2 linked regions of the Homo sapiens genome follow. The protein of the gene in region 1 interacts with the protein of each later gene in a biochemical or structural test. Each region holds a gene or a part of one and is shown on either strand. Other genes may lie near its edges.

Region 1 (3,656 bases):
GGCTTTGCTTCTGAATGTGAATTGTCCCAAGTTGGCAAAGAAACTAGCAGCTGCTAGAGTGCTGGGCTTGGAACCAGGTAAGATGGATTTTAATTGCTTATTTCCCATTTCTCTGGCACCAGTTGATCGTGGAACAGCAGGATGAGCAGTTGGAGCTGGTCTCTGGCAGCATCGGGGTGCTGAAGAACATGTCCCAGCGCATCGGAGGGGAGCTGGAGGAACAGGCAGTGTGAGTATTGAGACACCCCTCTCGCTTCAGTGAAATTGAGGGGCAGAGCCATCCTATGACACCCCTAAAAAGCCTGGCAGCTACGTGGCTGGTAAAATCAAAAGCTATTTTATTCATAGCTGCATTTTTATTCTGTTTTACAGATTAGCCTCCCCAAAAGAAGCAATTCTACTTCGTAAATTTTACTACAGGCTTTAGGTGAAGTTGTTATTATTTTTAAACACCTCCAAAAACAGACACAGATGTCTCTGAGCAGATACTCGAAGTATAGTTATGAATGGGAATATGAAACAGAGAAGCCTCTGTAACCTGTGGGAATTTTTGTTCCAGAGAGGATAGGACATGAGCTGACTTTATCATCCCATGACTCTCCTGCTATATTGAACAGACACGTTTTGCTTTGAATCTTAAATTATTGTAACTTTGTTTTTTTTTTTTAAAAAAAACTTACAAATTTAACGCCAGTTAATAAAAACTCTTTCCTCTCAGAAAAATAAATAAAAACAAAACATAACCTCAGTTTGTTTTTCCTTATGAACAATCCCTTTTGCACCCAGAAGTTCGATGGCAAAAACTGCATTCTTAAATGCTGCCACATCATTTTGTAAATCTTTTGAAAGAGAAAAATGAAAAAACAGTCCACCAGGATATTTCAGAAACTTTCCTGTCTCGATATTACGTTTATCATGACACATTGATTGATTATGAATTCTTAGTGGGCCCGTGTTCTACACCGGGCCTTCTGGAAGCCAAGGGATATAGAAGGGAACAGAGCAGACAAGACAACCCATCTCTGCCAAAGAGTTTGCCGCTTGCAGGGTAGAACGGATATTGGGTAAGTGGCGAGGGGTCATTAGGTGATGGCAGTGAAGTGGGAGGGCCCCTGTGATGGGGCCAGTGCATGCTGCCTGGAGAGCCCTGACTTAGCCCAAGGTCCCTGAGGAAGAGGGGTTTAACTGAAATCTGAAGGATGTGTGGATGCTAGCCAGGTGAGGTGAGAGTTGGTGTGGAGGCAGGTGGTGTGGGGTGTGTAGACCAGGAGGAAGAAAATGCACCTGTGAAGATGGAGAGGTGCACACGTGCATGGAGCAGAGAGGTTCCATGTGTCTGGAGGCAGAGAACAAACCAGGGAAGGCCTTGTCAGCATGGTAAGGAGGTACGACTACTTATTCTCAGCATAATGAGAGACCAGTGGAGGTGAGGTGAGGAGTGATGGTGTGATCAGGTGTGATTTAGATGATGTGCTGCAGTGGAGTCAGGTAGGGAGACCAGGTAGGAAGCTGGAGTAGCCAGAATCTGTTTCATGTCTATCTAAAATGGGTCCTGACCCTAAAGTTCAGTTTGAGGAGGGGAAAGGACTAATGGCCTGAGCTTCTCTGTTGATGAGGCAGCCTGGCTGGGCAGTGGGTAATAGAGTCAGAGGGACTTCCAGTTAAAGATGGTGCATTGACACACCCCTACCTCCACTCCCTCTCCACAGCTCACTAGAACAATAGTAAAGGGGTTTGTTTTTAAGGGCATGAAACCGCTGGGCATGGTGGTTCACACCTGTAGTCCCAAGTACTAGGGAAGGAGGCTGAGGTGGGAGGATTGTTTGAGCCCAGGTGTTTGAGGCTGCAGTGAGCTATGATGGCACCACTGTACTCCAACCTGGGTGACAGAGGAGACCCTGTCTCTAAAAAAATAGAAATAACAGATAAATGGGAAAAAGCATGGGATTTGGACTTAGACCTGTGCCATCCAGTATAATAGCTACTAGCCACATGTGGCTGTTGAGTAAGTGTTATGTGGCCAGTCTGAATTGAGATGTGCTCCAGAGGTAAAATGCTTACTGGATTTTGAAGACTTCATATAGAAAAATATAAAATAGCTTATTAATAATTTTTATATTACATGTTGAAATTACAGTATTTTGGCTATATTAAACTAAATACAACAGAATTAATTTCACCTGTTTCTTTTGAAATTTTTACAAACATGGCTACTAGAAAATGTAAAATGGCATATGTGACTCATATTTTTGTTGGATGGTACTGAGATAGATTTGGGCTAGCAACTTGGTTGGTGAGTGTCCATGGACTGAAGGTCGGATGATGTGCCTGATGATGTGCCTGTTTTGTCTTCAGTATGAAAAGTCATACCTAGCGCAGAAAGGTAGCTCTTGCTTTTTAGAGTTTGGCCCTGCCTGGATAGGCCTGCCAGCTGCAGCGCCAAGATGCTGCCAGGATCTAAAATGAGTTAAATATTTTTTAATTTGAAAATTTAGGTAAGGGACAAAGACTTATTTTAGTTGTCAACATATATGTAACAGTTGATTTAATGAAGAGTTGGTTGCCCTGAATCCTGCAAGGCTGTCAGGTGTCTATTGTGGGCACAGATCAAGACCAGGAGTTTCTAACTGCCATTGATGCTGTCAGAGTTAATACAGCCTTTTTAGTAAGACTGTTAGTACTAATTGGCATATTACATTCTAGCCTCAGAATAATCATTTACTAATCAAAAGTTGAAAAGTCTGGAATATTTAGTGACTTATGAAATAGGCACTGCTGAAATAGTATTTTGGGGTTTTCTTTCCCAGCTGCACATTGGACAGCAAATAGTGTAAGCCTGCTGGAGTCAGTTTTCCTAGTGGGAAATACTGGTTTCTCTGTGAGGACAGATGGGGAAATGCGCGTGTGCATGCACAGACACACTGTCACACACCCCATCAGGGATGTTAGTCCTGAGGCCTTCTGGGTTTATAATAAAGCACGTAGTGCCTTATAGGAGGTTATTTTATTAAAGTACATTCCTTAACTCATATTGACATAAAGTGCTTTTGTTTATTACCTGGTTCTCACAAGAGCCCTGTGAGGGAAGTTGAGCTGATAGGATTGCCCTATTTTACAGGTGAGGAAACAGTCCCAAAGAGTTATAGAGTATGTTGTCGAAGGTAGCAATGTAAACAAGTGGCAAAGCCTGGTTGTCTGCCTCAGATAGCATTGTTTCTACCACATTGCACTGCCACTGAGTTTGTGTTATTGTATAGACAGGTCTATAGTCTTGCAGTTCTGAAATCTAGGAAGCTCTAAAGAAATCTCGTTGTTTTTTTTTTCTTTAAATTTGCCGCAAGCTCATGTTACAGAAAAACCTTACCTGAACTGACTCCAACTGTGATTCCTCATAGTTTTCTCTGCAGAAATATTAAGTATCTGATTACGGGGACTGCCCCAGACCCTCCTGGTGGTGTCCTCCTAGTGGTGTCGACTAATACAAAGGATATGTAATTTAGGCTTTTTTTAATCCTGAGAATTCCAAAATCAAAATCCTATCTTGTCCCAAGGATTTTGGATAACAGAGTGAGGTCCTGAAACCCAGTGTTGCCTATTTTGTTTGCTAAAATGGAGGCCTGGTCCTTTTAACCCAGTGCAAGTGCACTGCCAAGGCT
Region 2 (3,656 bases), on another chromosome or scaffold:
TGGGGAGGGCAGGCTTTGGAGAGGTATCTCGGTTGGGGCTTTAGGAAGTGATGGAAAAGCATGAGGCTACCTGGGCAGATGTGGGGTATTATAGAAAGGAAAGGTGTGCAAAAGTGTGGAGGTGAGAGGGTACAAAAAATAATCTCCATTTACTTTTTGTAGTTGCAAATAGGAAAGAGTGACAAAAGAGGAACAGTAGCATGGACATGTGTATGTATGATAAAGCTTAAGACTCAAACAATTAGCAAATTAATAAAATACCTGGTTCCTTTTATGCTTGTATCTAATGAATGATATCTTTATATCTTGATTATATCTTAGTGTGGAAACTTTTTGCCTGAAGCACAGTCTATGGCAAGCAAGATAGAAACTTAAATTTGGAACTTAAAATGCTTTTTTTCATGAGCACTAATGGCTTTAATCAAGGCTCAAAATCTTTTTTTTTTTTTTTTTGAGATGGAGTCTCGCTCTGTCACCCAGGCTGGAGTGCAGTGGCACAGTCTTGGCTCACTGCAACCTCTGCCTCCCAGGTTCAAGCAATTCTCCTGCCTCAGCCTCCCGAGTAGCTGGGATTACAGGCGCTCACCACCACTCCCGGCTAATTTTTGTATTTTTAGTAGAAACGGGGTTTCACCATGTCGATCAAGCTGGCCTCGATCTCCTAACCCCGTGATCCATCCGCCTCGGCCTCCCAAAGTATTGGGATTACAGGCGTGAGCCACTGCGCCTGGCCCTCAAAATCTTAAACCATAAAACAGCTATGACAGTAGAATTATAAACAAGGCCAGGCACGGTGGCTCAGGCCTGCAATCTGGGCACTTTGGGAGGCTGAGGTGGATAGATCACCTGAGGTCTGGAGTTCGAGATCAGCCTGGCCAACATGGTGAAACCCCATCTCTACTAAAAATACAGAAATTAGTGGGGCGTGGTGGTGCATGCCTGTAATCCCAGCTCCTTGGGAGGCTGAGGCAGGAGAATTGCTTGAACCCAGGAGGCAGAAGGTGCAGTGAGTCAGGGTTACACCACTGCACTCCAGCCTGGGCAACAGAGTGAGACTCCATCTCAAAAAAATAAAAAAAATAACATGATAGTAGTGGTTCAATTAAAAACAACTGAAAAGATTTAAATTTTTTTGTTTGTTTGTTTTTTGAGATAGGGTCTTGCTCTGTCACCCAGGCTGGAGTGCAGTGCCATGATCTTGACTTACTTCAGCCTCAACCTCCTGGACTCAAGCAATCCGCCCACCCCAACCTCCCCGGTAGCTGGGACTACAGGTGTGCGCCACCATGCCTGGCTAATTTTTGTATATTTGGTAGAGATGGGGTTTTGCCATGTTGCCCAGGCTGAACTCCAACTCCTGAGCTCAAGCCATCCACTCACCTCAGCCTCCCAAAGTGCTAGGATTCCAGTCATGAGCTACCACACCCAGCCAAAAATGACTGAAAAGATTTATATGTGATCATATCATACACTTGCAATAGCAGTTTTTGGTTTGTGGCTCTAGTGATTCTTTGCGAGCTTTGTGCTACTGTTACATGCAGCTTTGTTTCTAAGAGCCATGTAAATACTTTGAGAGTACACCCTGTTTTTCTACTTATTTGTTCATTCAGCTATTTTTGGAGTATCTACCATCAGATCCTATTAGGTGTTAGAGATACAAAGATAAAATCTCTGCCTTCCAAGAATTCAGTCCAGTACATTCTTGGGGAATTAAGTTTTCTGCTTATCAAAGAGTATATCCATGGCAAGGTTTCTCACCTCAAATTGACATTTTGGGTCAGATTATTCTTTGCTGGAGGGCTTTCCTGAAGAGTGTTGTAGGATGTTAAGCAGTTTCCCTGCCTCTACCTACTAGATGCCATTAACCAGCCCCATCACCTGGCCCAAGTTGTGACAATCAAGCAACTCCAGACATTGCCAGATTCCTGGGGTCAAATCTGTAATAAGAACCAGAGTTTATCTGTGTCATTGACCGTGAGTTTTGATAAATGAGTTTTGAGAAAATTCATACAAAGCTAGCAAATGTAACAAAGAACCTAGATCCGTTGCACAATGCTTGTTATTACTCCACATGACTTCTCAAAGAGGAATTAGATAACAGCCGTGCTGAGTAACACCTACGAAATGTTTTATTTTTTAGCTTGGATGTCTATGAGATCTCCTTCTGAGTTACTGTGTATAGGAGAATAATTGTTTGGTTTCTTAGGGACTCCAGTAAAACAACAAAACAATATAAGCCACTGGAGGGGAAGAGTCTAATGCATAATAAAAACCTTAGTCTTTTCCGAGCTGTTTGTACCAGCATTTCCCTTTTCTTGTTAAGAGTGAAAGTATTTTCTCCAGTGAGTGTCCTGGACAACTGGCATATTTAGAAATGTTTCCTGTGTTCTTCAGGCACATAACTTCAAATTTTGTTACTTTACTAAATTGGACTTTTCTTCACCTACTGCTTTTCCATGTTCAGACAACACATGAAGAACATTGAACAACCAAAAATTCACTTTAATAGTCTTTTAATGCTTGTCTTCCAGTAATGCCTTGCTTCTCTAAGTAGAGGATCCACTTTCCTGTTGGAAAGAGTACTTCCCTAGAAGTCCTAAAACCTGTATTTTAGGTTCACCCTTGGCACTCTTATTAAACATTCATTTAGCCTCTCTCGGTCTTGATTTCTTTACTTGTGGTAGACTAATAGATATAGAAAGAGGTTCTTTTATCCTGTTTTCCTGATAAGTTCCTAAATTCCATAAATCTACACTTTTTGCTCACACAAACTTTTATATATCCTTATTCTTATACAATATCCACATTTCCATTTCTGTGCCTAATAGAGTTTTGATTCATCATGGATAATCTGTCATCAGAAGAAATTCAACAGAGAGCTCACCAGATTACTGATGAGGTAAATGTTTTACCTAAAATAAGTAAATAATTCTATTTCAGTTTTCATATTGGAGGAGTGAGAGAGCCTTCTTAGGGACATTTTGGCCTCTTCCTAGTCCATTAATATCAAAGAACACATTTGCTCCTTAGTGCCATTGCTGGTTTTTATTTTCTTTTTAACTCACCAGAAAACTAAAGTGAAAACAATTTGTATGATTTTTATTTTTTAGGTAATTATTAATATTACTTAAGTGTAACAAAGATACTCTACTATGTATTTGAGAAATGCTAGACTTCTATTTAACAATTTCCTAATATCTGTAATTTACTTAGATTTCTACCTACATTAAATTTTTATTCCCATGAACTTCACCATCCAAATATTCTCTTTTTTAAAAAAACTTTTTCTTTCAACATCACACTGGAAGTCCTTACACATTTTCTCTTAAGGAGCGCCTGAAAATAACTAAAAATGTAGTGATCAACTTACTTTTTTTTTTTTTTTTTTTTTTGAGACGGAGTCTCACTCTATTGCCCAGGCTGGAGTATAGTGATGCGATCTCGGCTTATTGCAACCTCTGCCTCCTGTGTTCAAGCGATTCTCCTGCCTCAGCCTCCTGAGTAGCTGGGATTATAGGTGTGTGCCACCACGCCCAGCTAATTTTTGTATTTTTAGTAGAGATGGGGTTTCACCTTGTTGGGCAGGCTGGTCTCAAACTTCTGACCTCGTGATCCGCCCACCTCAGCCTCCCAAAGTGCTGGGATTATAGGCTTGA

The links.
Region 2: the proteins of STX6 (region 1) and SNAP23 form a complex in vitro, tested with the Homo sapiens proteins (one study listed by BioGRID).

What each region holds. Positions count from the first base shown.
Region 1 is NC_000001.11:180,984,812-180,988,467, reverse strand, and holds part of STX6 (syntaxin-6), read left to right. Parts: intron 1-122; coding exon 123-229; intron 230-3,656. UniProt on the Homo sapiens protein: SNARE promoting movement of transport vesicles to target membranes. Targets endosomes to the trans-Golgi network, and may therefore function in retrograde trafficking.
Region 2 is NC_000015.10:42,509,005-42,512,660, forward strand, and holds part of SNAP23 (synaptosomal-associated protein 23), read left to right. Parts: intron 1-2,828; 5' UTR 2,829-2,842; coding exon 2,843-2,899; intron 2,900-3,656. UniProt on the Homo sapiens protein: Essential component of the high affinity receptor for the general membrane fusion machinery and an important regulator of transport vesicle docking and fusion.